6 linked regions of the Homo sapiens genome follow. The protein of the gene in region 4 purifies or fractionates together with the protein of the main gene of each other region. This does not show direct contact. Each region holds a gene or a part of one and is shown on either strand. Other genes may lie near its edges. The genes, in order: CDH2, SUGT1, MFAP3, LRRC8B, ANO6 and TM2D3.

Evidence for each region.
Region 1: the proteins of LRRC8B (region 4) and CDH2 purify together in Homo sapiens (co-immunoprecipitation; one large-scale study listed by IntAct). This does not show direct contact.
Region 2: the proteins of LRRC8B (region 4) and SUGT1 purify together in Homo sapiens (affinity purification with mass spectrometry; 2 studies listed by BioGRID and IntAct, with this or other methods). This does not show direct contact.
Region 3: the proteins of LRRC8B (region 4) and MFAP3 purify together in Homo sapiens (affinity purification with mass spectrometry; one large-scale study listed by BioGRID and IntAct). This does not show direct contact.
Region 5: the proteins of LRRC8B (region 4) and ANO6 purify together in Homo sapiens (affinity purification with mass spectrometry; 2 studies listed by BioGRID and IntAct, with this or other methods). This does not show direct contact.
Region 6: the proteins of LRRC8B (region 4) and TM2D3 purify together in Homo sapiens (affinity purification with mass spectrometry; 2 studies listed by BioGRID and IntAct, with this or other methods). This does not show direct contact.

What each region holds. Positions count from the first base shown.
Region 1 is NC_000018.10:27,952,733-27,957,588, forward strand, and holds part of CDH2 (cadherin-2 isoform 1 preproprotein), read right to left. Parts: intron 1,896-4,856; exon of another isoform or gene 1,786-1,895; intron 1-1,785. UniProt on the Homo sapiens protein: Calcium-dependent cell adhesion protein; preferentially mediates homotypic cell-cell adhesion by dimerization with a CDH2 chain from another cell. Cadherins may thus contribute to the sorting of heterogeneous cell types.
Region 2 is NC_000013.11:52,697,004-52,702,101, reverse strand, and holds the end of SUGT1 (protein SGT1 homolog), read right to left. Parts: 3' UTR 1,193-5,098; downstream 1-1,192. UniProt on the Homo sapiens protein: May play a role in ubiquitination and subsequent proteasomal degradation of target proteins.
Region 3 is NC_000005.10:154,044,431-154,049,454, reverse strand, and holds part of MFAP3 (microfibril-associated glycoprotein 3 isoform 1 precursor), read right to left. Parts: intron 1-5,024. UniProt on the Homo sapiens protein: Component of the elastin-associated microfibrils.
Region 4 is NC_000001.11:89,527,163-89,532,186, reverse strand, and holds part of LRRC8B (volume-regulated anion channel subunit LRRC8B), read right to left. Parts: intron 1-5,024. UniProt on the Homo sapiens protein: Non-essential component of the volume-regulated anion channel (VRAC, also named VSOAC channel), an anion channel required to maintain a constant cell volume in response to extracellular or intracellular osmotic changes.
Region 5 is NC_000012.12:45,400,271-45,405,294, reverse strand, and holds part of ANO6 (anoctamin-6), read right to left. Parts: intron 3,501-5,024; coding exon 3,275-3,500; intron 2,224-3,274; coding exon 2,054-2,223; intron 1,857-2,053; coding exon 1,759-1,856; intron 1-1,758. UniProt on the Homo sapiens protein: Small-conductance calcium-activated nonselective cation (SCAN) channel which acts as a regulator of phospholipid scrambling in platelets and osteoblasts.
Region 6 is NC_000015.10:101,645,692-101,650,715, reverse strand, and holds part of TM2D3 (TM2 domain-containing protein 3 isoform a precursor), read left to right. Parts: intron 1-554; coding exon 555-712; intron 713-3,816; coding exon 3,817-3,991; intron 3,992-5,024. UniProt on the Homo sapiens protein: Probable positive regulator of Notch signaling.

The sequences.
Region 1 (4,856 bases), on a different chromosome or scaffold from region 4:
AAAAAAGCACCTCACTGAAATACAAGAGACACACAAATGAGTACCATGTGGTCCATGTCCCTCCACAGGCTTACAGTCTAGCATAACAGGTATTACTACTGTGTGAAGCAAATGACAAGTGACAAAACTATGAAGTCAAAGCAAAAGCCATCAGGTTGTGGGGGAAAAAAATTCACATCAGCATTAAGAGCTAGGAGTTCAAAGAGAAAGTAGCATTGTATTTGACCTCATTTTGGAAGGACATCAAAGGAAGACTGAAGACAGGTCAGATGTGATTACTACATAAAGGGAGGTACTCAGAAAATCATTTATGTGACTAACATAGCATAAAATGTGGAATTAATTAATTGTAAACTGGTATTTTAAAAAATAGGGTATCTTCTAACTTCCAAAAAATCCTAGAAATGTCATAATCCAATATCTGTACACGGTATAAATATTGAAAAGAGGAGGACTCCTGTCAATCTAAAATAACATGCGTTATCTGGTTCTTATAAAGAATTTTAAGAAAAAAGAAACAAGGAAATAACTACTATCTATATTTGTAACTTTTGTAAGCAGATGCTTTTTAATATACAATTAGAGTCTCTATGCTCTGCAAAACTTCTAAGGATTTAGTATTAGGTCCTCTGGTATATTTTCTACTTAATTTTTTCCCCCAATTCCATTCTAGTACTCCTAGATACACTAACATTAGTCTCCAAACAATCGTTTGCTTTTTCCACACTCTACTTGTCAAATGCTAGTTGGCTTATATGGCCTCACCTATCTAAGATGTGTCACAGACAGTCCTACCCTTGAGAGATCAAGCCTGCCAATACACATGCATTTTATGAGCGCATACATGGGTTTTTATGAGCATGTGTTCACCTATCCTTTCAAGGTTACAAAGGAGAAACAGGGAAGAAGAGCAAAAAAATTAAGGTCAGAATCAGTATGGTGTAGTGGTTAAGAGATCAGACTGTGAGATGACACCTTAGCTCTCCCCAGTACTAGCTGTGGGACCTCCGCTTAACCTCATCTACAACTGTAATCATAATAATAGGACTATTATAAAGACCAAATGCAATAAAGGGACCCGAGGTCTCACCACAGTGACTGGCACATGTAGAGCTCAATGAATATTAGTTAGTATTTTTAAAAAATTTAAGTTTTGAGAAAAATGTCCTGCCTTGGGATTTGAAAAAATAAGAAACGATGAAGATATATTTTAAGAAACAAAATGGCAGCTGCTTGACTCACGTCAAAAATCAGAGAAAAAAGTACACATGACCAGTTTTCTCATCTCCAGGTACCTCTTTACTAACAATCCATGAAATTTAGCAGTACTTTACTACTTTTCGTCATGTCATTTTATACTGTTTATACTCCAGAAAAGCCTGTGTAAAATAAAATAAAGCAGGTTTCAGCAAAATACTTTGATATATACAACATAAATAACTTTAGATAGGATTTTATCTTATTTTTAGACTAAGCTACAAGGCAATTCTGCTAAGACTGAGAACCACAACCTACAATTTCTCAAAACTTGTAACTCCCTTCTGTGGTAGATTGTGTTACTGCCCTCAGTGATTCACTGCTCTTTTTCTGAAGGCAGAACACACACCCACACTCCCACAGAGCCTCTCTGGGGTCAGGGTTTACTTTCCCAACCACACTGTAAGGCTTGGCTGTCTGACTGGCTTTGGCCAATGCAATGTAAGTAGCTGTGAAAAGTACCCGCTTCAAGAACTCTATCTAATGTGTTTCCACCCTTCCACTAATCCCCCTTTCCCCCTCTGCCAGGAGAATGGCCTGCTCCAGATGGGAAGTTTATCTGCCTGGATCCTGAAACGAAGACGACATATGGATCAGGAACTGAGTCACTGACAGACTACAGCTGACTTACAACTTAAGTAAGAAGTAAACCTTCATTATTATAAGCAGCAATATTTTGGAGTGGTCAGTGATTGGTACCTTAGCTAACAAAAGCCGAAGAATGCACCTTCATTCATTTTGTTTGTGTTTATTCATTAGATTCAAGATGTATTTGTTGATTATCTATTAATATTATTGCAATGTATTCTGCTAACTGGTAGAGACACAGCTACTAATGAGCTAGATCCAATGGCTGCCCTCGTGGAGTTAATATTCACATATTAGCCTACACTCCTCTTCCCTACAAGATCTAGCAACTGCAAATTTAACCAACAGCGGATTGCCTTAGTTCAGCATTGTCTGACTTGGGGTCATACAAGTAGGCCCAAGAAGGATCTGAAGAAAAAACAAGAAAAATCAGGGAAATTCCTGATAAGGAGAATGGGTCCCTGAAAACAAATATTAAATTTTCATTATGACAATTGCTTTATAATACAGACAACAGAGACAATGGCTAAGATCACTTTGTTCAGGTCATCTGCTTTACCACAATTTAATTATTAAGCGAAAATACACACAGAGCCCTGGCCCAATCCTTATGATGTCAACACCAAACTGGAAATATGGAGAGGTCAAGACTCAAATTAGGGATAGCATTAGGAGAAATACCTAATGTAGATGATGGGTTGATGGATGCAGCAAACCACCATGGCACGTGTATACCTATGTAATAAACCTGCACATTCCGCACATGTATCTCAGAATTTAAAGTATAATAGTAAAAAAAAAAAAAAAAGAAAAAGAAAGAAAAAGAGAATGACAAGTTAAAAAAAAAAAAAAAGACTCAAATTAGCCCGAAAGGGTCAATGGCAAGGCCTCAAGTGTGTCTGAATTTGGAGGAGAAAAAAGGGATGGCCTGTGTTTACTATGTCCAGGGAATAAACACAAGAAGGGGTCTGGTCTTCCCTGGTGTGTTCACGGACCCCAGGACTCTTCATCAAATGACTAAGCCACCTAATTCAATTCCTTAAAATAAATATAATGCTTGTGATAATCAACTCCCATATCCACTATTGAGAGTCTAAAAAATATTATTTTCTTTATTTTTTAGCTCCTGCCCTGGCTTTCTGATCATCCTGGTAGTTTACAAATCTCTGTTTTCTTTATTTCTGTTTTTTTTTTTTTTTTTTTAAAGAGGTTAAGGCCATAAAATCCATTAGAGAGAGACCACTGTGCTATGCTAGAGCACGGCACATTGCCTTATGTTTTAATAATTACAAAAGGGCAAAATCACTGAACTTTTCAAGAGTTCTTAGACAAGCCAGCTTTCTATGCAGGTTAAGTACTTTAAATCCCTTCCATTTGGATAGCACTGATTTTTATCTGAGAATAAAATATGACTCTTCTGAACGAGGTATTATATAAACTCTTGGTAATATTTTGGTAATTCTAAAAAGATCGCACTGAAGTCCTAAGAAACTGACAGTAACAGGCACGAAATCTGAGTGAATGTACAGAAGAAATCCAGTGGGCAACAGAACCTTCTGGTTCTCCCTTATGGGATTCCTTTATTCTTGGATATGAACATTATTTCACAGGATGTACTGTTACCAAATTTACAAACTAAACGCCTGTGTTTCTCTAGGTTTGACTAAATTTAGCAAAGTATCCTCTTGTTCCACCTTTCCTGGAGAGGTAGATCTTGAATTCTGGATAAAGCTGAACTGTCTTCTAAAGACTGAGGCTTCTCTGCAGAGTGAGAGAGCTTGGCTCTGGCTGAATTCTTGCTGAGCTTGTATTTATAGACTTCTGATCCCAGGCTTTATGGGCGGAGACATGCTTTTATGAGGATAAAAACCCACATTATCCAGCGAGGAACACATGAGGGATGTAAAAGAAAAGAGGTCTTACTGTTTCCTTTACATTCTGTCTTCTACAGTCCTAGTGCCACTGCTTTAGTGGAGGTCATCATTATATCTTGCCTGGACCAGAGAAAAAGCCTGCCTAACTGGTCTTCGCCTGTCTCCAGCACTGTTCCAGCTTCTTTCCTACAAACTATTGGTTTCTGTCTCAAACGTTATTTGATATCACTCCCGCAAGTAAGACCTCTGACTGCTCTCTATGACTCCTTCCAAATGAAAGAGTTCCCCCGACAATGGGCAAAATGATTTTTAATTGGTGCATGAACACTTTAAAACAATTATTTAAGAAAATTAACTTAAAAATTGATGAACAGTTTAAGAAAATAACAAGAAGTACACAGAGAGGGAAAAAACTGGAAGGTGTTAACTCAAATGCCTGCTGTTGGGTAACCTACAGCATACAGTAAAACTCTTTAGAAAGCATTCAGTGAACCAAGACTGTTTACCCACCTTTTCTGTTTCAGCTATTCTCAGCTCCAGCAACCACGACTGAATTATGCACCCCCAAAGGGAATCCCCCCAAACCCCAAAGCATCATGTTCTTGTGCACTTCTATGTTGTTTATTCATTTTTTTTAGAATTATACTTCTTATATTTTTTATCTGATTAATATCCATCCATCCCATCCATCCATCCATCCAAAAGCTCATTAAAAATATCACTTCGACTGCACAGATCTTTTTTCCCCAACCATGACTTAGGAGTCATTCCTGTGGTCTCTCTGGTCCCTTCTACTTTTTTATTTTTTATTTTTAGAGACAGGGTCTCACTCTGTACTCCAGACTGTAGTGCAGTGGCACAATCATGGCTCACTGCAGCCTTGACCTTCCTGGGCTCAGGTGATCCTCCCACCTCAGCCTCCAGAGTAGCTAGGACTACAGATGCCTGCCACCATGCTCGGCTAATTTTTGTTTTTTTTTGTATAGAGGGTTTTTTTATCAGGTTGCTGAAGTCGGTCTCAAACTCCTAGGCTCAAGCGATCTGCCTGCCTGAGCCTCCCAAAGTGCTGGGATTACAGGTGTGAGCTGCTGTGCCCGGCCTCATCTACTTTTATCATCTTGTTTGGATGACACTAGA
Region 2 (5,098 bases), on a different chromosome or scaffold from region 4:
ACAGATAATCAAGGCACACCAGACAAAGCCTTGATAAAGATGGAAGCAATGGGCTTCTTGGAGAATGTCTACTCTCTAGATTTTCAAGGATGAGCAGGAATTAGCCAAGTGAAGGTGACAGAAGATTTGCATTCCAGGCAGAGGGAGTTTGAGTAAGACCAGAGGTGTGAAGTGAAGCTGCATGGTACAAGCAGGAAAACAGCATTCAGGTCGGGGTAGGAAATATCAAGATGAAAATGTAGGCAGAAGCTTTAAGTGGCATGTTAATCTGGGGAGTGTGTGTGTGTGTGTGTGTGTGTCTGTGTGTGTGTAGGAAATAGGAAATGAAAAGTTGCAGGCAAGGAGGGAGCTGGTTAAGTTTTCACCTTAGATGAATCCCCCTTGGTAGCTTCCCATGTGAAAACTGAGCAGGTGCCATACAGGCCAAAGAGGCATCTTAATAAGGACAGCAGGTCATAAGGGAAGGCTGACTTTTGAAAAGATGCTCCCTTTCAAAGCTTCATAATTAGATGAAAATATAGGAGGTGCGTAATTTACTTCTAACAGGCCAAGGGATTATGTTGTGTTATGAAACGTCACTAAATACCCAAGGACATCAATTTAACAGAAAAAATCAGGATGATTTAATAACAGAGGAAAAATTCAAGGTTGGATTAAGGATAGGAATGACAAAGGAGACTTAAATTGTATTCAAGGATGAAAATAAGGGTCTACTTTGAAAGAGAAGTGGACAGATGAGCATTCAATAAAGGAAGAGAGGGCAACAGGGAAGAATTACAAATTTCTTCACAACTTGGTACTACTAATTTCTCAAATTACTTTTAACCAGGCCAGTCTAAAAGTTGCAAATACAGCCCAGTTTGCTGTGCTGAATCTTGACTGAAATGTTAGTATGTGTGTATAGACTTATGTGTATTATTGGTACTTCATTAGATACTCATTTAATTCTCAGTAGTGGTACAAACCAATCCTGATGGAACATCTCAAGTTAGATTTCAAGGTCCTAGTTTGACTCGGAATGGAAGGAAATATGTGACAGCTGCCATTTAGTCAGCACATGGAAAATGTTTTCATTTTCTGGCTGCAAAAACTTGTGTGTTTTTACACCTCCCCTTCCACCAGCACCTCAAATAACTGTGACACTAAAAAAGTAGATATAATACTAAGAATAACCACTTAACCCACTCAACAGTTTCTTACATCAGATTTTATTATACTGAAATACAAGCTACATTTTTACAAAATAGAAATTCTTTGTGAGTGGATTGACTTAATTTTATTTCTGTATAAGCTAAATATGTTGATCTGTTTTATGAACATGTATTTTATAAAAATGGTCACAATATATTTTTTAAGTTAACTGATTTATTGAGGGAGGAGGAGAGAGTTGACCAAAGTCTACATGCATAGACAGTCCTAAAAGCGTATCTCAAACATGAAGATGTAAATTTGAGAGTTAATGATACAAATTTCAGCAAAAACATTTTACAGGCAGAGAGTGTTTTGGTGTTTATAAAAGCTGAACTCCTTTTGAAGGGCTTTTGTACAAATACACATGCTCATATACTATATGCATATATAGGTGTACTTCATTTTGAGAAAGTCCAGTATAATACTAGCATCAAATTTACAAAACAGGTTTAGTGTTGACTGACTGAAGAACTCACTACAGGTTTTACTTCAACTGCTTACATTCAAAAGTATTCAATTTACAAATTTTAGGTACTTACTGTGTAAGGTAAGTACATCTATACATAAATACTTTTATGCAGGTATAATATAAACATAGCAAATAGCTGAGGCTATTTTCTAAGGTGTTTGGCTTAGTGAACCTTTTTTACATCTTTATAGTTTTAAAGTCAAATACATAGCAGTCTTTATTTGGGTGTATGTTATCACAGAGGAATAAAAATCAGTAATGGGACTGGGAACAGTATACCCACTAAGTTAAATTAAGTCATTGGTTAAAACACCAAATTATTCAAAACCATTTAAGAGATATGCCCCACTAAATTCCCTCTGAATTTAGTCATTTACAGATGTTGTGTTTCGTATTCCTGTTCTCACCTTTGTGCCTGCTCCTTTGCAAACATTCTTTTCACACCAAATTCTTAGAACTGAATCAGAACTGCAGAAAATCCAACACCTTTTCTCTCCTCTGCACATGGCTACAAAAATTCTAATAGTAACAAGATAGTGTGAAAGACATACCTCTATATACTTTTTACTAGCATTGCATTTGCAAACTTACTTGAAATTACTTTTTTAAAAAAACAGGATTTCTATGGCGTCCTGTCCTTCAGGGTTCCTTCTAAGGTATGAATTGCTAAGAATTTTCTTTTCAGCTGCCTATATTTCATCAGCCTTGATAATTAATCATCTTTTATACTAAATTTGCCATATACTGACAAAGTCAAAGACCTGTAATAAACTAGACAAGCAAAAACTTTCTCTTAGCGGGACTAATGCTGTTAAAGGCAAATGGTTTCCTTTCCATTAAAACCATATTCCTGCCTGTTAAGTTACTGAGGTAACTCCAAAAAATTAAGCAGTAAAAAAGATCTCCATGGGATGTGCCCTAACACAAATTCTACTCGGCCTACTCAACCAGCACCGTAATTTTTAACATTCACTTAGCACCTATGGGTAATTAAACAGGCATCATCGGAGAATATTCCAGTTGCTAAATGGTACCCCATTATTAATTAGTACTATGCCATGGCTCTCTCTGAGTATTTCTCTGCTCAGTTCTAGTAATATCTTAGCAGTGATAAAAGTGTTTTGCCCAAATAGTTATTCTCATTTTGTTTCACTTTGATTGAAACAAACATTTGATTTTCTTTCATCATGTGCTGTCATACGGTGATATGGATTCAATAACTTAATCATAATGACCCCCCAAGATTAAGAAGAAAAAAAGCATCATTCAGCATCTCTCCTCTACCTTTTAATTTCTGTGTTAAGAGGGAAACAAAACCTTCAAAGGAGCAAGCCAAGTAGCTTTTCCTCTTCTCTAAACTTTACTGGAAATAAGGCATTAGAGGTGATTAGTGCTAATCTCACTTCTGTTCTCTCCTTTACTCCTTGACATCACTGTGTTCTACATGCAGTCCTCCAGGTCACCTGCTTCAAAACCATCAGTTCATTCAAAACAAAGATTTACTGGACCCTCTCTCAAAGGTACTGATTCAAAATCTCAGGAGGAAAGTAATGAAGGTCTACATTTTTAAAAATAAGCTTCCCAAGTGAAGGTTACTCACCAATAAGCTTAAGAACCACTACCCTATATATCATACAAAATAGCTGCCCAATGTTATAATTTTAGTTGTCCGATATCAGAATGTCAGCAGAGGATTAGGGCAAATCAGCTAAGCATGGTGGCTCACGCCTGTAATCCCAGCACTTTGGGAAGCCAAGGCAAGAGGATTACTTGAGGCCAGGAGTTAAGAGAGCAGCCCGGGCAACACAGCAAGACCCTGTCTCTACAAAAAAAATTTAAAAATTAGCTTAGTGCACTAGTAGTGCAGTCCCAGCTACCTGAGAGGCTGAGGCAGGAGGATCACTTGACTCCAGGAGTTGGAGGTTACAGTGAGCTATTGTGTGCCTGGACAGCAGAGCAAAACCCTGTCTCTTAAAAAAAAAAAAAAAAAAAAGATTAGGATAAATAAGTTTTAAGAGAGAGTCTATCACCAACGATCTGAGTGAGTTACATTAAAAACCTGTATGAAGAAAAAAGTATATGAGATGACAGCACTCTGGAAAAAGTGCATCTGTAAAACCAAACGTTTGGACTACATAGTATTTAAGATCCATTCCAGCTCCAAAATCCTGACTTCGTTTTTGTCTCCTCATACTGACAGTGGATGAAATGCAAATACATGTTTGCATTCCAGGGAATAAGAGGTTCCAAAGCTACCTCTAGTCTTGTCAGATGGCCCATAAAAACATGCTCTGTTGATCTGATTTTAACAACTCTAAAATAAAATCCTATGCTACACATATTCCTAAGTCCCTGTTCACAACCGGTCATTCTCCAATCTTGCCTTGGTACTTATTCTGCTGTAACTGTACTTATATTCCAGAACAAGAAATAGCTTTGCTAAACAAAGATTAGACTAACATATGCTATTACCTATAGTTTAATGTGTTAAGGAATAAACGGCAGACATAAGTTGAGTATTCAGGCTGAGGGCTTCTTTCCACCACCACAAGCTAAGCTCCATGAAGGCAGGGAATTTTGTTTACCTAGTACCTAGCACCTAGCTCAGTGTCTGATGCGTATTTGGCAATCAATGAATATTTGCTAAGTGCATAAATGAATGAGTGGATGTCATGAACCAAGTTCTTTTTCAGATACCTATATTATTCTACTACATACCTTAAAGTAAAGGCTCACTCAAAGAAAAAGTGTATGGCTTTTGACTGCAAAGACTTGAAGGGCCTCAACGGTGTTGATACTGTTTAAAAATAAAGTATACAACCCTCATCAAAGAGGGTTTTCTAGTACTCAGTATCTCAAAATTTCTTCAGGGATTCCAGAAAAAAAATGGACACGTGAGCAATTCAAACTTTTGTCTCCAAGAAGATTGGTATGCTTATAAATTGACTCACTCTTTGTTTCCATATTGCTACATATGCTCAAACCTAATTCCACTCCTGGCTTTTAAGATCTGGCCTCTCCTGTACTCTCCCCAAGACATTTGGGCTCATAATTTTGTATGAATGGAGGGCTAACCTAGTTAGAAAGTAAACTTCAGTCCGTTCAATTAAAACACAAAACAAAACAAAACAAAAAACAGCCGGGCACAGTGGCTTACGCCTATAATCCCAACACTTTGGGAGGCCAAGGTGGGAGGACTGCTTGAACCCAGGAGTTTGAGAGACCAACCTGGGCAATGCAGGGAGACCCCATCTCTACACAAAATTTAAAAATTAGCTGGGAGTGGTGGCACACACCTGTAGTCCCAGCTACTCAGGAGGCTGAGGAAGGAGGATTGCTTGAGCCCAGAAGACGGAGGCTGCAGTGAGCTGCGACCATGCCATTACATTCCAGCCTGGGCAAGAGCAAGACCTTATCTAAAAAAATAAAAAATAAAAA
Region 3 (5,024 bases), on a different chromosome or scaffold from region 4:
TGACATTGGGGAGTAATTAGATGGAACAGTACCTAAAAATCTCACACAGAGACAGCAGAAAAAGCAATGAATTGGTAAATAGCAGACCTAGATTTTGGTCCTAGCTTTGCCACTAACTAGCTGTACGACCTTGGCAAGCAGCATTCTCTCTGGGTTTCTGTTTTCTCCTCTGTCAAATAAGGGACTGGATGAGATAATCTCTAAGGACTCTTCCAATTCTGAAATGCCATGATTCTATTTCATTCTGACAAATTTTATGCAACAGGGAGCCAATGAAGGCTAAAATATTTATCTTAATGATCTTTTATTTCAACCTGCACCATTACCATCTGTTGTTATAATGTAAATCAACTGGCATATCATAATCATAACCATGGAGCTCAAAATTTGAGTAATTCAAGTATGAAGATATGTTACATATAAATAATGCAGGGACACCTGAGGTGGGTTGTTTTAACACTGGAAAGAAAGCTGCACTTACTGCATACACATAAATAGAGTTATTGACTTCTAAAGCTATGGAACCTCCTTCATGGGCAAGAACATTAGACAACAGAATTTTCTTTTAATAGTTTCTCCAATACGAAGAGACAAAGTACAGTGTATTTAATAGTTTGTAAGCATACCAAATTTCTAGCTCAAACTCTGTAAACTAGCTAAGGGAGGAACTGACATCTTAAGTGTCTAGTTAGTAGAAATGCAAATATAAAACTACAGGGACAGATTGTTAGACACATTTAAAAGAAGAGCAAAATATCTTGAATAAAAGGCAAAATAACATCCTAGTCCAAAAGTCTATGTATTTATGATCACCTTCCTGGTAATTTGACTCCCCCTTTAAGCCACCAACTCTCAAAGAAAAAATTCAACTTTTATTTCTATAAAATATGGGATGAAATGCCTAGCTTTATGTCTTATAAAGCACCAAGATAATTAGTTTTGGAAATGACATTTACTCTCCTTTATATTTATATGAAGGCTGCTTGATCACAGAACATAAAAAACAATGAATCACTGTATTTTGCCATTAAATATCTCAAAGTCTAAATTACAATACGGTGCAAATGTCATTTAATTTTCATTAATTAACCCTTGAAAGGATGGTTGAATGGTGACAAATACTTTTCTAAATCTTTACAATTTAAGGATGGGGTATACAGAGTAAAATAAAAAACCTTCAGACTTTGGCAATACATGACACACTAAACGTGTTTATTTCCATTTCCTCCTAAAACCGCACAAAAAGGACACTAAAGGAAACAAAGACTTAGGCAGAGAGGGGATTTTGGAAGTAATATAATCTAATTGATTCAGTGCACAGTGATTTGCTTCTTACGACATGCTACAAGTTAGTAGGAGAATCTAGTTTGGAATACAGTCTCTTTTTTAAGAGGGGGTGATGGGTAGAAACAATGGAAATAACATTTATTGAATGACTGCCATCAGCCAAGCACTGTGCTAGGGGCTTGACATGTAAGTTTCCAAGCTCTTTTTCACTGCAAGATATACAGCAATTGGAGGACATAATTTTGTACTTTATTCTAGATTAGTGGTTCTCAACGGTGACAGGCTATGAGTGTGCTGAAAAAATGCTCCAGGCTTTCTCCAGAACTTTGATTAGGAGTTCCTATAGCTTCATCCAGGGCAGCACTTCCCAAACTTCATTCATTCCTTCTCCTGTCTTTTTTGTTGTTGTTGTTTTTACTATATCCATGAACCAAATTATCGTCATTTCTGCTTTTCTTTTAAATCAACTCATTTTATTTTTACTTTCACATTTATTTAAAAAGGAAACTCTACATCAGTTCTGTGGACAAATGTAACCGTACACATAAACATAATGAAAACAAAGAAGTGTTATTAGCTTCCAGAGATACTACTGCCTGCTGAAAGGCTTTGAGCTGGAGGCTTGCTCTCTCTGTAGTAAAACCAAAACCAAAACAAAAAGCCCCCCACAACTCCAGTTTATTTTAATGCCACCTCATTTCTTAACCTGCCATCTCCTTCCTTTCTACTCTTCCCCACCACTGAGTTTGAGATCGGAGGGATACATTTTCATATACTGAACAGTATCTATTGAGCACCTACCATGTGCCTACCTACTGCCCCATAGACATTGTCTCGGCCTCCACGAAGTTCAGTCTGGCAGATGATGGACACTAACTACATATATACAAAATAAACTCAATGTTACCCAAGGGAAAATACAGATGCTACAGGAGGACCCAACATGGGGAGTTAATCTCATCATGGAAAGCCTCTGAGAAAAAGAGGTGTGCAGCACCTATTCTTCAGGTGCAGGACCTGAAGAATAAAGAGGAATAAAAATTGGGAGGAAAGCACTCAAGGTAGAGGGCCAGGAGACAGGGAAAAATGAGAGGGGTCACTGGTCAGGAGTTGTTCACAAAAAACAGCTAAAAAATTGTGGTAAAGACAGGCAGTGGCCAAAAATGCTGCGTCTGATTCCTGATTCTGGAGGAGAACTAACTGGGCCAATGGTGAAACTGGAGATAGACTCCGGAAGCTGCAGTGGCTGAAGTGAGTGAGGGAGATATTCGTCCATGATGAAGACGTCAAACAACTGAGAGGCTCAAACGTGGGCAGATCACCTGGGGGTATGGTCACATCCCCCCAGGATCAAAGTAGCTAGTGTAGAAGAAACTGGAAAGAAAGGAAATGGATTCGGTCTTCCTGCTCTGAGATTCAGGAACTTCAGCAGAATGAACAGCTGTCACAGGCGAGGGCTGCAGGGCAATGAGTGTCCTCACCAACACAAGGCTTGGCAAAGCATAACTCCCACATGGAATTCTGCCTTCCCGCAAACTTCCTGAACCTCCTATCAAGGCCTTAGCTATTCCTCCTACATAAATTCAGAGTATAGCTGTATAAAGGATGGCTTCTCCTTCACCCCAGAGCCCTCCCCACCTACCGTACTCATCTGGCGCTGGTATATGCTGCTCTGTACTGCTAGGCAGTCTATCCCATCTCAACTACCCCTTAAGAACAAGGCCTATATTTTTTATTGCTGTACGTCATAACTAGCACATGCTCAATAAATATTGATGGAGATTAGTTTAAATTTGATTCAGTATGTGACAGATCTTTATAAATTGAATAATGTTATGCAACAGGGATTATAATTGTTCAAACTGACATACAGTTGCCTATTATAAATTCTCTGAAACAAAAACAGTCAATGCTAACAATCTTGGAAGACCTTAAAAGTACCTAATTAAATGCATTCTTCCGACTCCCAACCTGATACCTTCATTTACCATGTTGTCCTAGAGGATAATGGTAGGAATAAAAGATCACCAAGTGCAGTTTCCAAACCAGGTTGAATATCACAACTGTCAGGAGAGCTTTTTAAAAATATGGATTCCCAGGTCCCAACCCAGAACGAGTAAGAAACTCTGTGTTTGCGCCTTGGAATTTATGACTTTTAATTGGCTCCCTGGGTGTTTCTGAGGCATTGGATTCATGTACTGCATCTAAGGGCCACTAATACAGTTCCTCAATTTCCTCTGCAACTGACCTGCAGAATGGTGCTTCAGGCTATTTGAATATTTCCAATGAGAGATATAATCACTCACATTCCATTCTAGATTTAGATTACTCTAGATCAGCAAAATTGAAGGTCTCTAATAAGAGCAGGGTAGCAGAGAGGTTCAGAGTATAGGATTCAAATACGATCTGTGACTCTAACCAGCCTTGCAACTTTTATAAATGACTTAATCTCCCTGCCTCAGCCCCTCATCTTTAAAATGGGCAAAATAACAGAATCTATTCTCACAGGATTATTGCAAAGTCTGAATGAGGTAGTATACATAAAACACAGAGTCTGGCAATGGTAATCACTGAATAAGCTCTATTATTATTGTTCATGGTTCTTTCAGATATTGAACTAAAATTTACATTTGATAGTTACATCATTATAAAACACTCAGAATACCATGCAACCATTTAAAAATCTTGGGGGTTGGGGGGAAGGGGACACCATTATGCAGTTTTAATCTTAAATTTAAAATTTCACATTTTTCTTTTTCTCATTGCAAATATTTTGCAATATTATGGAGCATATAGGCATTGTAAACTGAGCTTGGATCCCAACCATGATATGACATTGTATGTGTCCTCAGTTTGTGGTAGAGAAGATTTGTCGTGATCTACTTACCCAACGGCTCCCCTCTTTGAGCCCTATCCCTATCTTCTTGGGTCTAGGAGGAAGACAACCTATTGGCAAAGTAAGCTAATAGAATCTTTGTTCTTGGAACTTGGAATTGAGACCCTTGTGGGTCAGGGTCATTTGAGGAAAAGGAGGCATGTGGGGGCTGAGGCAGTCAGGTTTGGGCCACATACAAGGAGAAGCTGTAAGAAAGGACAAGAGGGATGGGGAAGGGAGAGAGTGGGAAGACAGGAAGAGGAGCAGGAGAAAGACAAAGAGAGACTCATACATGGTGCTTTGGTGCCTGATAGAATTCTACTTCCTGGCACTCCTGTGACCCTTTTTTTTTTTTAAAAAAAGAAACAACTTTATTAAATTTTACTCAAAATTAAAACCACAAAAGTGAAGATGAATGTGCAAACACGTAATAAATGCGGAAATGGTTAGGCAGGAGAAAAAAGATTAAGTTCACAAAAAGTTATTGAACTGTGTCTGTGGCTGCCAGGCAATCTTCATCATAGATCTCTAGTCTCTTCCTTACACAGTGGAGTGTGGCAAGCAAACTGCCCATGTGGCCAAGATTTGTGGTTCTTGTGTTGTACAGACATAGCCATTTGCCTCTACCTACCAGACAGGATTTAGGAAAACACTATAAACTCCCTTAAACTGCTCTTAGGCCAAACATGGCAGAAGAAACCTGGCACACTGATTTTGAGCCACAAGAGAAAGAGGCTGCACAATAGCCTTACACATCCAGTTAATACTGGGCACTTCACTCATACCATGTACATCCTGAACACAGAGGACTTCTGATTTGAAAGACTAACGGATATAACCCATTTGCAGGTAACAGGCTGTT
Region 4 (5,024 bases):
GGGGGTATGGGTACTTTACCTAAGGTGGCCAGGGAACGTATTTCTGAGGACACATTTGAGCTGACTCTTGAGAAGAAAGTAGTCATGGAAATTTATAAAGGAAGAGCATTCCAGGCAGAAAGAACAGCAACTGAGAAGCCCCTAAGGTAGGAAGGAGCTTGGTGTGCCACTGAGGGAGGAACTGCAAATACCCAGGCAAATCTGAAGCAGGAAGTCCAAGTTACAAGGTCATTCCAGGAAAAGGGAGGGTGAAAGACTCTGGCACCTTAGGGCACCACTGGCCAACATAAACTCTCTTGGGATTGCCTGCGAACCTGACCACCACACACAACACTAGGCCTCTGAGAAACTGCATTATGATTGAAGGAAACCAAAATATTGCACCCCAAAATATACTTCTTTGACATATTTTGAGATGGCTGTTCGGAGGGCAAAACAGAAGTAGGCCAGTAAAGCTGTCATTTGTTCGGGAGATTTGTGTCTGTAGAGTATCTGCACTGATGCAGCCAGGCTTTCTCTGAGGCCCCACCTTGTCTGTCTGGATCTAGGAAAGATTAACTGAGAATCTGACAGCTTTAAAGGTCTGAAAGAAACATTTACCATCTATTCTATCTGAGGGCTGCTACCAGAGAGGATCATCTAGATAACAAGACCACCTTTGCTAGCCAGGCCTCCTCTTCTCTCCTTCCCATAACCTGTCTTGCCACCATAACCTGATTTACCACCATTACCTGTTTTTGGCCATGCTCTCAGCCCCTGTTCTTTCTGTTACCTCAAGATGGTATATAAGCATTAACCATCTGGCCATTTCTTTGAGTTTTTAAAATATTTTATATGACTCCTGTGCATACATGTGCACATAATAAAATTTATCAGGCTTTTTTTCCTGTGAAGCTATTATCACTTTGTTTCATAGACTCAAATTATCAAACCTTCAGGGAAAAATTTAAACTTCCCTACATGATTCAGAAATGCTTCTGAAAGACAAGTCATTGCTTAGCTTAGGACTGCTTATTTTAGCATTGAAATAGGGCCAGGAATAAACTCAGTTTTGTTAAAAGAAATGAACTTAAAATCTTTAGATGAACAGAATTTATCTTAAATTTGTCCACTCAGAGCAAGAAACATTCTTCAGTGCAATGGCTGATGGCTCAACCCCCAAGGCTCAGTCATGCCATACCACAATACATGGAAAATACCACAATACGTGGAAGATGCATGGAAGTAGAGTGCTCCCTGCCATCCTCCAAGGCTGTTACAGGGATTAGAGAGGCATTGTTTCCCCACAAACTCCCCTAATAGCTCAGCAGGACACGGCAAGGAGAAACGGCACCTCCCAAAGCACCTGTCAATAGCACCCCCTGCCATGCTGGTTCCTGTCTGTGCAAAATGGAAAGGTACGGAGGGACCGGCCGTTGGGGTTGTCCACCCGCTTTGAGAAGGCCATCCCATGCATAGTCCAGTCACCCAACCCTCTGAAACACACTGCTCATACTTCCCATCCTGTGGTCATTTTCCACTGCTGCTTTATGCGCTACTGATTTTTTGCCAACAGTCTTTCTTCATTCAGCCATATGGTTTCAAATTCCATTTGCTAAGGATGATGCAGATCAACCCTCTGGCCCTCTACAAAAATATCCTACTTTACAGTGCCCTGTCTCAGATGCATCTGCTTGTTGTATCAAGACAGCATCTGTATTTAAAGTTTGCTAATATAGCCCAAATAAACTGTAAAAGAATTAGATTATTCCTGAGTGTCATATTGAGAAGTTATATTATTATATACTCTTATTTATTTATTTATTATTTATTTATTTATTTATTTTTGGAGACAGAGTCTTGCTCTGTCGCCCAGGCTGGAGTGCAGTGGCACAATCTCGGCTCACTGCAAGCTCCGCCTCCCGGGTTCACGCCATTCTCCTGCCTCAGCCTCCCGAGTAGCTGGGACTATAGGCGCCCACCACTATGCCCGGCTAATTTTTTTTTTTTTTTGTATTTTTTGTAGAGACGGGGTTTCACCATGTTAGCCAGGATGGTCTCGAACTCCTGACCTCAGGTGATCCACCCACCTCAGCCTCCCAAAGTGCTGGGATTACAGGTGTGAGCCACCATGCCCGACCCATGTCTCCTTTATAACAACCTCACAGTGACAACTTCTCATCTGTTTGCAGTGAGTGAGTGATTCACCTGTCCTCCCCAGTATGGTCCCAGATCTCCACGAGGGTGGGGAACATGTGCATTTTTGCTCATCATCATTGCATCCCCAGAATATAGTACAGTGCCTGGCACAAACTATATGCTTAATAGCTACTGAAAAAAAAAATACTGTGAAATAAATTAAATGGTGGTAAGGTTTAGCTTCTGAGAGTGGGTCAGCCAAAAATAATTCAAGGCTGAGGAAGGTTAAGGCTTAACCATTCTGTATCATTAACCATTCCATATTTTGTTATTTTATAACAAAATATATAGAAAAAATTTTGCTGTCACTTGGGTGATAAACTGATTTTAGAGATAATTTTATAACTTTCTAAAAAATAGAATAAGTACTGATTTTTGAAAAGGCTCACACAAGTTAGGCCAAATTAAAAAAGAAAAGCTACCACTTTACTGAGGACAGTATTAAGCACTTTATATACTTTTTTTCTTTCAATTCTAATGGTCAGTTATTATCCAGTTTACAGGTAAAAAAACAGAGAGAGAGAGAGAGACTATGGTTGCATACTGAGGGAGGATTTGTGTCCAGATCTATTTGATTTCACATGCCATGTTTTTAGGCTAAGAATAAATGCTGACATTGAGTAATAACGTCTTGCTCCCTGACACTCAAAAACCTCATCTCCTCCCATGACAAGGTACAACACAGCAGTCTCGTAACACCAAGTGGGGTAAATGCCCAAGTATTTAAAATATTAATAGGATTTGGGGGCCAGTGATGTTGTAGCAGGGAAACTAGACAATTAAAGGAAAAGAAGTAAGGAGGAATATAAACAGGATTTACTGAAAGCATGTTTTACGCCAGATACTATATTAGATATGTTAATGTATAACATTTATTTTAATCCTAAGACTCCTGTGAGAAAGACAATACTAGTCAAGAAAAAAGAGATTTAGGATAGCTATGGTGTTTGGATACCTCCAAAATTCCCCACTTTTTTCTAAGGATTTGAGTCTCCCACTTTTTTTTATTTAGCTAGGAATAAGACTGTCTGGAATAAGGATAGTATTTCCCAGTCTCTATTCCAGCTACCTGAGGTCATGTTACTAAGTTCTAGGCAATGACATATAACAAGAAGTATATGACAGCATCCAGGAATTTTCCTTCAGAGACCATGGGCTCTTGCCTTTCCCCTCCTTCCTTTTTCCTTCTTTCCTCCTTTCTGCTACTTGGAACTTGGGGGTGATGGCTGAAGCTCCATCTTGGGATCATGAAGCTGAGGGCCTCATCTTATATATGGTAGATAATCCAAAAAGTAGAATCAGCCTAGTTCTCAGAAGACTGTAGAACCATCATACCAGCCATAGAATGCCTCTCTGCAAGTTTGTTTAATGTGAAAGAGAAACAAGCATCATTTTGAATAAGCCATTGTTCTTTGCAGTCTCTGTAGCTGGCAACTAATTTTAACTAATCCACAACTCATCCAAAGTGATGGCACAGAGTTCAGAATCAGGCCTGTCAGTCTATGAAGTTTGTTCTCTTAGGTAAAACCTTGAAGAACTCTTGCTTGTAATTTGCAAGAGATTTTGAAAAGAGAAAAGTTTCAAAATGCTGAAAAGGAATTTGACAGAAGAAAATAAGGAAAGTTTGAATATGCTCTTAAATCTGCTACCTGAGAAGAAATCAAAAGGAATATGCTACTCAACAATAAAGAATGTGGTCTCCATGAGAGATGAGCAGAGGAAGATCTCAGTCACCTGCATGGAGCTGGATACGGAAGAGAAATAGAAGCTGTGCAGCTGGCAGCGTCTGTGAAATATGCTGTGCTTGTTAGCTGAAGAATAGGCATTGCAGAATGGAGCCCTGGAAATGGTCACAGGATGACAGATGAGAAGAAAGAATTTAAAGGGATTCTGAAATTTAAAAAAAGCAAGAGATGAAGTTTAAATATATACAGTCTAGAAAGAAACAAGCAGAATCACATGACCCATATCAAAAGCAGCAAAAAGGTCAGAAAGGCAAAAAGGAAAGGTCAAGGTTGAAGCCCTGACAACTCATTTTTATTCATTTCCTTTACTCAGGTTCACAGCAGCACTGAAGGAGTAAATGTAAATTGTGTGGCAATTGAGTAGAATCCTAAAGGAAAGGCAGTCATAGAACAGGGAGTTTATTGTTACCCTTTGTTCAATTTCTAAATGAACCACAGTGATAAGAACTTAGGAGAGAGATCAGTGATTGGAGCTAGGCCTAATTTTACTTAAGATCAACCTTAATGATCAGAAAAAGAAAAATAGGTTATTATGTCTGCCAAAGGCATTATTTTAAACACCAGAGAAATTAAGTCATAATAAAGGCATGTAGGAAGTTTAGAAAATACAGATGGGGAATAAAATGAAAGTAGGCAATAGCAATAAAAGGCAGCAATATGAAAACAGATATGACACAAATTAGAAGGTATTTTACAAATGGTTAAATAAATTCTACACTATAACTGGGTCTCCCAAATTCCTCTTGAATGGTCACAGGTCTGAACTGTTTGCTGATGTACCCAGTGCTCTGGGAGTCAGGATAGCAGTGGAGAACCTGCTCCATGCAAGGCAATGCAAATCATGCCACCAAGTGTGTAATAACATGACAGAATCAGAATGCATTCATTTCTAATAATATCAGGGTGTGGTAGAAGGATGCTGGGAAGGAGAAATAAGAGTAAAATTAGAGAATTCAACTTTAGAGACACCAAATGAAAATCCGGGATTGGGTTAAACAGGCTATGAATAGTAAAAAGTCCAGAAAACATAAAATACTCAGGTACTATTAGAAGAATTTGAAAACTAAAATACAAAAACAAAAACCCTTGTTTATAAGAAAA
Region 5 (5,024 bases), on a different chromosome or scaffold from region 4:
ATAATTAACCTACTTTTTTCAGAAAACCCTTTTTAATCTCAGAATGGATTAAGACTTTCCTCAATTTTATATATTTGTTTTCATCTAGAAACACAGTACTATTTATGCATGACCTACTTTTACTTATCTGGAAAAATCTGAATATGAGCTCAATGAAAGTGAGGGTTGTTTTCTCCGGAGTAGGATAAAAAAAAAAAAAGAATTTCACAGCTAAAGCCAGAATCCCTTTCTGGGTGGGGGAAGAGGAAGGAGAGAGATCTTTGTTTAGAGAAAGACCCTGACAGTTTCCATTGAAGATGGAGAATAAGACCTGTTAAAGAAATCTGGAAGGAGGCACTGAAACCCGGAGTGAGTTAACTGCTCAATAAAGAGAATGAACAGAAACTTGGTGACTGGGGAGAAAAAAGCCAGGAGTAGGAGAAGAAAGGAGAGAGAAGTTGTATGTGATGGAGGCAAGAGGGCAACATGGCAGGAGGCGAGAGCCTGTAAAGAAGGGTGATAAATTTTAAAAAATTCCCAGCTATATAGTGGGATAAAAGACTTTTTATAAAGGTAGAGGTTTTTTATTTCTAAACAAGGGAAGAGGTGGTGGGGGAGATGAGAGGAGGAGGACAGGGGGAAGAAGACAGAAGGCGGGAGAGGTGACTACAGAAGATAGTCACAAACACGAAACTTTGCTGGCTTTAAGATGGAGAAGAGGTTACAAGGCAGGGAGCATAGATGGTGGCCTCCAGAAGCTAGGAAAGGCAAAGAGATTCACCCCAGAGCCCTTGGAAATGAACACAGCCCCACTAACACCTTGATTTTAGTCCAGTGAGACTTCTGACCCCCGGGACCATAAAATATTACATGTTATTTTTATCCCATTAATCTTGGGGTAATTTGTTATAGCAGCAATAGAAAACCCAAACAAAAAGCTCCCTGAAATTTGCAGAAATTGCAGATGGTGTTGGACTTTACACTTTGATAGTGGAGGGGGCCTAAGTGAAAATTGTAAAGGGCAATGAAATCTTAGTTAACATTTGAAGTACAACTATTCTGTTGTTCTCATTTTTTAGGAAAACAACAGTAAGTCAAAGCCTTTGTGATTATTATTTTAGACAATTATTTCTTAAAACATTATATATCCTAGTGCCTTAGGATCATGAAAGAACCTCTATTCTTAAAAGTTTGTACTCATGGGATCCTGGATTTGAATCCTACAGTAGTCTCTTAATGCTAATGTGAAACTGGGTAAATCATTTAACCTCTTTAAACCACAGATCTTCATTAGTAAAAAGGAGATAAAAATAAGGATAGTTTGGTAGATTAAATGATGTATATATATATATAGCACTTAATATAGTGACTGGAATTCATACTGACTTTTAAATGCATAATATATAGGAAAGAGAGGAGAAGGATATGAGGATATAAGAAATTGTGGAAATACACAGTTCACAGCTCTAACCAGTGCTGTCGCTCAAAGGGTTGTGATTAGTCAGTCACCAACAATAGCCCAGTAGGTATAAACTCTAGCAGATGGGGATTTACATTAAATATAATGAAGGTTTTAAAATACAATTATTAGATCCTGGATACATTTGCATTGTTGGTTGGACTATGTTGTCTGGAGACCTTTAATGACAACAGATTCTGATCCATTTAGAGGTGGACATGCAGCTATGTGGCTATGTGGCTATGTAGGCAAATGATTTGTGTGGATGGGCTGTTCTATCCCTTGTCCTTTTACCCATGGCTATACAATTTAACACTCACGGCAATAATACTTCTTGTATGTTATTCCAGATTGCTTTTCCTCCCATGATTATTGTCAGCTGAGTTGTCAGTTCAAGAAGACAGCCACCTGGGTCACACTAGAAGGTTAAAAAGAAAATACCATTTAAATATTCAATGGATCTAACTTGAAATATAGGCATTCTATTTTTCTGACATTTGTTCTGTTTAGGCTAAAAAATAAATCTAAGGAATTTACAATAAAAAACTATTCATTTGGGCAACTGAGAGAAAACTCAGCTTAAACTGGCAAGATAATACAATTATATATTCATACCTCTTCATTTCTGTATTTTCCCAACCAATAAACTGGGTCTCCTGGATAGCCTACAAATTTGCCCTTAAAGAATGCTATGTAGAAGCATGAAGAGTAGTAGTTGACAAACTGGAATAAGAACATCTTCATGGTGAGGCTGTTCTCATAATCAGTCTGGGTCCTTGGGAGTTCTGTAGTTAAAAGAAAGAGAAATAAGATTTTAAAATTGTGAACAGCTTTGAGACTCTAATAAAAAATACTGATACATGAGTTAACACGTTAAACACGTTAAAAAAATACAATTCACACTGTTTCCATTTAAGCTGTTTTGAATTCCTTAATATAGCCACTGTGTTAATTCCAAGTTTGCACATTGTTATGAGTTCTCCCTCACAGTAGGAATACAATAGCCCACATGTTCCCCCCTGCCCCACAAAAAAATCAACTGTTCCTTAAAATTTACAAGTCCAGTGTTATCAAATAAGAACTGCCATGGGTATAATTGACAGAAAATTATTTTTGAACTGCCTGCTAAATGATATTCTCTTGTTTTCCTGAATTGCGATAAGGTAGGTCTATTGAAGAAAACAAGCAAACCAAGGTACAACTTGCTAGAGGCATTTGGGAAAAACAAAATAGGTCATCCTCCTAGTGTGGAGTTTGCATCAGTTTGATCATTTTAGATGATCACCGAGCAGGCCATTCAGGGAACGACTCAGACGTATGCAGTGTGGGAAGCACTTAACTTGGCCACTAAACAGCTGCCTGGGATACAAGCCAGAGAGAAGAAACACATTAAAAAATCAAGGGCTGATGAGAATTATATTAATATGAACAGCACAGCACAGGGAAGACACGTAGCAGTGTGATAGCTTGTCCTCTCAGCAACCGAGGAACATATTTGCCACCGGAACCATGACCCTATTCCACTTATTTGCAATAAAGAGACTATTGACTTTCAACAATAGAGTACATGATCTAATGTAATTGAAAATATTATTCAGCACTGATCTGTTTACAGAGAGCTTGGACGTTATGATGATTGTCTTTGCTTTGTCCCTTTTACTAATGCAAAGCTGTAGATAATTTATTTCCATACATGCTAGAGAAAATATGTTTACACTTGAAAATTTCTAAAAATTGTAACCTACTGGAATTGAAACGCCTAAAAGATAACAGTCTCTATTTTTGGCAGGTTCTAAAAATATGTCAGAAGTTACCTAAGCTATAGTAGGACCTTACCGAAGTTAGTAATCATAATTGCCACTTTTTCATATATGGTGTTCAGAATCATGATAATTATAAAGCTGATGATGGAGGCCGTGATGGACGTGGCTGTCTGTGGAGTCAGGTATTTCTGGATTGGGTCTGTTCCATTAATGTTCTTGGGAAGTTTTGCAGAAAATACAATGAACACCGAGAGCCTATAGACAATGATCCCAATAACTGAAGCGATGATCAATAGGATCTGAAAGCACAACAAACACAGTAGCATGAGACTCACCAATAACTGCACTTGTACTATTAAAAACTGAACTCACACTTAACAAGGTGTGTGTGTAAAGTGATGTAAATCTCACATAAGTGATACCAGCGGTGGTAGAAAGTCTGGCATGTTAAATTTTTTAAAAAGAAAAAGGAATGATGGAAGTGAAAAGAAGGCGCATCCACATATGTAAAACATTAACTAGAGGAGAAACTGGGTGCAGGGGGTGGTGGGAAGGAACTGGAAACTATTTTATGTGCAATTTTTCTGTAAACCTAAAATTGCTCTAAAAAAAGTCTATTTAAAAAAGAGTATCTTCAGACAGCATAAAAATGGAACAACTAGTAGCATACTCTGGTAGAAGGAAAAAAATGAGTGTAGAACCAAAGAAAACATCCCTTCTACAATTACTAAATTATTTAAGTTGTGAGTTAATGTTTTTTGCTCACTCATACTCCATGAGGGAGCTACATTTCCTTGCAACAGAAAAGCTATCACCAATTGAAGTGTCAGCAGGTGCTAGCTTTTGTCTTAATCACTGTAGCAGGGGAGAGTCTGAGCACTGCCAGTGAAGCTGGCACAGAGGTGCCCTGAGCTAACTGTTGGTACTGGCAGCAGGTCTCTGCTGATAAAAGCTTCACACACTTTTCACACTCAGATCTTACGACCTTAAACTGGCAGTCATTTGTACTTGTATTTCCACAAGATTCACGCCACTAGTCCACTGTATTTTTGACTGCATAATCCCCAGTAAGAGATTTTCACTTTCTCAGTAAGCAGATTTCTCACCACTCAACGACGCACATTAAAGGCGCCATGAATTTTCCTTACTTGATACACAGTACTAGACACTATTGGAGAGGCATCTTTAAACTGTTTCCCCTACATCTACTTTCTCCAGAACCATGCACTCAAGGTGTGTGACTGCTCGTGATGACAGAAAAGTTTCAGAGAAGGGAAACTGAGGACCAAGCAAACCATATCTTGTTGTTGATAGTAACAGAGGCCAGTTGTCACCTGTGGAGAGCAGTAAAGGGAGTGATTACAGGATGGTCCTGGGGCTAGATTTCTCTATTTGAGTACAAGCTCCACTGGGGCTTCAATATCTTCTCTTGTGTATTAGGAATACTATGGCACCTAACCTATGGAGTTGTTGAGGATTCAATGAGTTACTTCAGGTAAAAACAGAATATTAAGCTCAGATACATGAAAAGCACCAAATAAGTATTAGCTATGATTATAGCAACCAAAGTTAAGTGTTAAAAAAGATGTTTTTCTTGCTCTTTAAGAAATCTGCTTGTAGAGAAGGCATTACATTTCTCCTGTAATCTATTTCCTTTCGCAGTTAAGTCTCAACACTTGTGAGATGAGTAAGATTTGTGTGTATATGTAAAAATTAGATAAGGCTGAGAAAAATTAAAAAGATGAATCAAGTCATCCTCTCTTAGCACAATACATACAGGGTGTTTATTATGTGTTTTTAAAAATTATCTCCATAATGTTTAT
Region 6 (5,024 bases), on a different chromosome or scaffold from region 4:
ACTGTAAATATTATATTAGCAAATGTGGCTTATCGAAGTACCAGTGTGAAATAATGACATTTTAAAGTTGATGCCCTGAGGATGTCAGTGGCTTCATTTCTGAATTAGTGAATTCAGATGAAAAGAACACGGGATTGGAAATGGAGAGATTTGGGTTCTAGTTCCAGTTTTGCCACAGACTTCCTCTGTGATTTTGCAAAACCCTACTGTAAGTTTTTTTTCAACTTACAAAATGATAGTCTTTTTTTTAAGCCCTTAATGTATACCCAGAATTTTCTATACATTATTTGTATATGAGCACCTTTAGTTTTCACGGCCACGTGGGAGGCAGGAATGAAGTAATGTTTTACAAGTGTGGTGCTCACCAGGTCCCACAGCTGGCCGTGGGCAGAATTCTGCTTTAATTGCAGGTGTCTCTGACTCCAGTCCCATGCTTCTTCCCTTCCAGTGCAGTGTCTACTTGCTAATGATCACGTCTCTTAACCTTAGAAGATTGTTCTCTGTTATTCGAATCAGTATTATAGGAGAATAAGCTTCTCTCTTGCCTCTCACAGAAAGTACTGAAATCCCACCTTATGTGATGAAGTGTCCGAGCAATGGTTTGTGTAGCAGGCTTCCTGCAGACTGTATAGACTGCACAACAAATTTCTCCTGTACCTATGGGAAGCCTGTCACTTTTGACTGTGCAGTGAAACCATCTGTTACCTGTGTTGTAAGTACTGCAGCTTACTTATTCTAAATAAATTCATTGTAAACTTTAAGTTAGAAGAACAATTCAGACTTGATTATTGGGAAGAAATTCTGAAGAATTTTTATATTCTTTTATGATTTCCCTTTTGAGTATGTAAGCAGAAATAAATTAAAAAACCCAATAGACCTTTCCATATCAGCTCACTACTGTTTTAGTTATAATGATAACTGTCAAGCCAGTTGATGTCTGCTGGAAATGCACTTGACAGAAATGTTGCTTTGTAGGACTGGAGAAGATCTCAGTCTACTAGCATATCTGAAGCAAGTCTAATTCGTTCAGATGGATTCTGTGTTCTCAATAGTGACAGCTAGTGTACAGAGGGGGTGGCAGTGTCTTTCTGCCATAGATGAGCTTTTGAAGGGCCAGTGCTTATCTGTGGTGAGAAGATGGATTCAGTAAATGCCGGAATGCCTGGTAGCTCTCTAGAACAAAATTAAGTGGAACGCCTGTCTTATCCAGAATAAATTCCAGATAGTCCAAAGATGTAATGTGAAAAATGAAACCCTGAAGTACCACAGAAAACACCAGATAGTTGCTGTTATAATCCCAAAATGGAGAATATTTTTCTAAGTATGAAATAAAGTTTAGAAGCCATAAAATAAAGAATTGATACATTTGACTCCTAAAAATTGGAGATTTCTGCATGACCTAAAAAAAAAAGCATAAAGGCAAAAGACATGGCAAACTAGGAAAAAGCGTTTCTAGAATATGTGACAAATAATACAGTAATATCAGTAATATATAAACACTTCCTAAAACCCACACGGAAAAGATGACAGTCTTGTAGAAAAACAGTGTTAGGACATGAGCAGATGGTTCATAGGAAAGGAAATACAAATAGATATATAACATGAAAAACATATAAGTTTTCTCATAGTATTTAATTAATACATTTTTAACCCTTAGATTGGCAATTTTTTTTTAATTTGATTAACTCTGAGTTTGTGAGAGTATAAGGGTCAGATGCTCATATCTTATTAATAGGTAATCAAATTGATCAACCTCTTGTAGGCGATTTGCCATATCTGTTAAACTTACACATGCACACAATCGTTGAGCTCGTAGTTGTACATGTAGGAATTTATGTTATAGATATCATTATACATGGATGCAGATAAGTGTGCTTATTTTTTAGCTGCATTGCTCATTAAAGCAAAAGATTCAAAAGAAGTGAAATGTCTAAGAACTGCTTAATTTATGGTACACGTGTAATAGAATAAACACCTTGTAGCCATTAAAAAGAACTAGGCAGCTCTAGAGGTAATGTACTGATAGATGTCCAAAATTAAGTGAAAGTATTGGGGAACATTAAATGTAGGTGACATAAATGTGCCTATGTGTAGAATCAGCTCTCTCTGGAAGCACAGAGCGTACTTGGCCTGGGGAGGGCAGGGGCTCCCGGCGGCTGGGCCAGACGAGGCCGGCTCACTTCTCACTCTCCTGTTGTGTCTTGACATGTGTTCCATGTACATGTGTCACCTACTTTTTAAAAAACCATTAAAAAAAGTGTGTTTTAAGCACATCACTGAAAATAGGCAGATGTAAACGTATTATTTTGCAGATCCAACTGTTTGCCTAAATCAAGTGATGCCTTACCCATATTTGAATGTTTTCCATAAAAAGTGGTTTTTGCATTGATAAGAAAATGAATAGTACTTGCTTCATCAGCGCATATGCCAAAGTTGGAACCATACAGAGAGAATTAGGATGGCTCTTCTGCAAAAATGACATGCAAATTTGTGAAATGTTAAAAAAAATAACAAACATGGGCCGGGCGTGGTGGCCTACACCTGTAATCCCAGCACTTTGGCAGGCCGAGGCAGGTGAATCACCTGAGGTCAGAGGTTGAGACCAGCCTGGCCAACATGGTGAAACCCCATCTGTACTAAAAATACAAAAATTAGCTGGGCGTGGTGGGGTGCGTCTCTAATCCCAGCTACTCAGGAGGCTGAGGCAGGAGAATCGCTTGAACCTGGGAGGCGGAGGTTGAAGTGAGCCGAGATTGCACCACCGCATTCCAGCCTGGGCGACAGAGCGAGACTCCATCTCAAAAAAAGAAAAAAAAATAATGTGTGTATGTGTATATATATGTATACATATATATACATGATGCTTCCAGAGATGTGTGACCACATAAAAATGATTTTGAAAAATATGCACTGCAATGTAATGTCAGGTAGAGTAAAAAGACTACAAAGTGCTTTCAGTATAATTCCATTTTAGTAAATTTATAAATATACATGTAGAAGAAACGGAAAGAAGATTAAAAGTGGTTAGCTCTGAACACCTATAGGTTTTTGTCTATAATCTTCAAATATGTAACATACAAAGAACATTCTACTTTTGTAAGCAGAATACAAAATAATGGCTTTTAAAATTGAAATGAAAAATTCTCTGGCCACCAGTGAACACTCACTGAGCCTCCACACACCATGTGGTGCTTCTGAGTTGGGCTGCCTCTGGATTAAACATGCCACATGCCCTGGTGGTAGGAGCAGCTGTAACAACCCTGAGTTGCCAGGCTGTGCAAGGTAGGGGATGTTAGGGAAGGTTGGCAACTCGGAAGCAAGGCGGTGTGTTAACCATTACAGAAGCATCAGGCTGGAGTTCAGGGACCTGGATTCCACTCCTCACTTGAAGCTCAGTGACCTTCAACAAATGCATTCATCAGTTCCTTCCAGCCATCCGTGATTGTGACTTTCTAAAATAAATTTTCCTCTTTTCTGCATTATAAAAGTATACGTTTACTATGAAAAATTTAGCTAAGCAAAAGTTATGAAATAATTATATCACCCTGAAATAACCTTTGCTATTTTGATGTGAATTTATCTAGTTTTTTCCCTTAAGTACATATGTTTGGGTGTGTAGTTTTATGATTATGAGGTCACATCATAGGCATTTGTTTTACATACATATTGTTTTGGTAACTGTTTTTCTGGCACTTACTCCTAGGTCCTAAATACAAGCATTTACGGAATTTTGTGCCATGTGACTGTGTAGTCTTACTGACATCTTAACAGACTACACCATTGTGATTGATGAGTTTTGTGTCATTTGCTACATAGGATCAAGACTTCAAATCCCAAAAGAACTTCATCATTAACATGACTTGCAGATTTTGCTGGCAGCTTCCTGAAACAGATTACGAGTGTACCAACTCCACCAGCTGCATGACGGTGTCCTGTCCTCGGCAGCGCTACCCTGCCAACTGCACGGTGCGGGACCACGTCCACTGCTTGGGTAGGTCAGAGTTCAAGGACATTTGTCAACAAAATGTTTTTCTCCAAGTTTATTGAAGGGACTTTAACCAGAAATTTGCGAGTCAAGTTACTTAATTAGAAACATTTATCAGCAGCTCTTTAGATGTGCCAAGCATCATCAATAAACTCAACGTACTAAAGTAAAGCATCCAGAAAATTGCAGTTCTTTTTAAATGTAATATTTGATAAAATAAGAAAAACATTTGAAGTATAAAGCATAATACACAGTAATTGACCTTTACCCAAAATAACAATGAAAGCAGCACCAATACCATTGCGGCCGCCTGAGTGCCTGAGTGCTTGCCTTCACCTGGTTGCCTTTCCTCCTCTTCCAAGGTAACCACCCTTTTGAATTTTTTATTTCACTTCCTTTTAAATTTTTTCTGTAGTTTTATTGTCTATATGTAATAAAATAATATTCAATAATGCATGTTTTAGAACCGTGTAAAATGATTTCAGGCTGTGTGCTCTTCTGGGACTTGCTTATTTCCTAAACATTGTGGCTCTAGGATTCATCCACGTGACTTCTCTTCTTTTTTTTACTTCTGTGTAATAATCTATTGTAAGATTGTATCACAGTTTATTCTCCAATATATTTGGTTAAGTGCTGTTTTCCGCTGTTGTGACTGTTCAAATTTCTTTGCCTGTCTCCCAATGGCACAGGTGCAAGAGCTTCTTCAGCATGTACTTTCCAGCGTGTGTCATTCTTTAAATGGCTGTATTGACTGGCATTCCCACCCGCGCTATGTAACTGTTCCTGATGAGCCATATTCTCTCCAAGAGTGGTTATTCTTAAATTTGGTCTTAAAGTTGTCTAGACTTCTTTTATATTTTGGATATTACCTGTGCTGTCCCTGAAACCCTCTCCCAGATTTTGATTTTTTTTTTTTTTGCATTATTGTATATTTTCATGAACAGAACTTTAAAAATATAATTACTGGAAGTTATTAGAGTTAGTCCTTTTTTGTGGTGGTTTTAAGAAATCTTTTTCTACCCCAGGTTAATAAAGACAA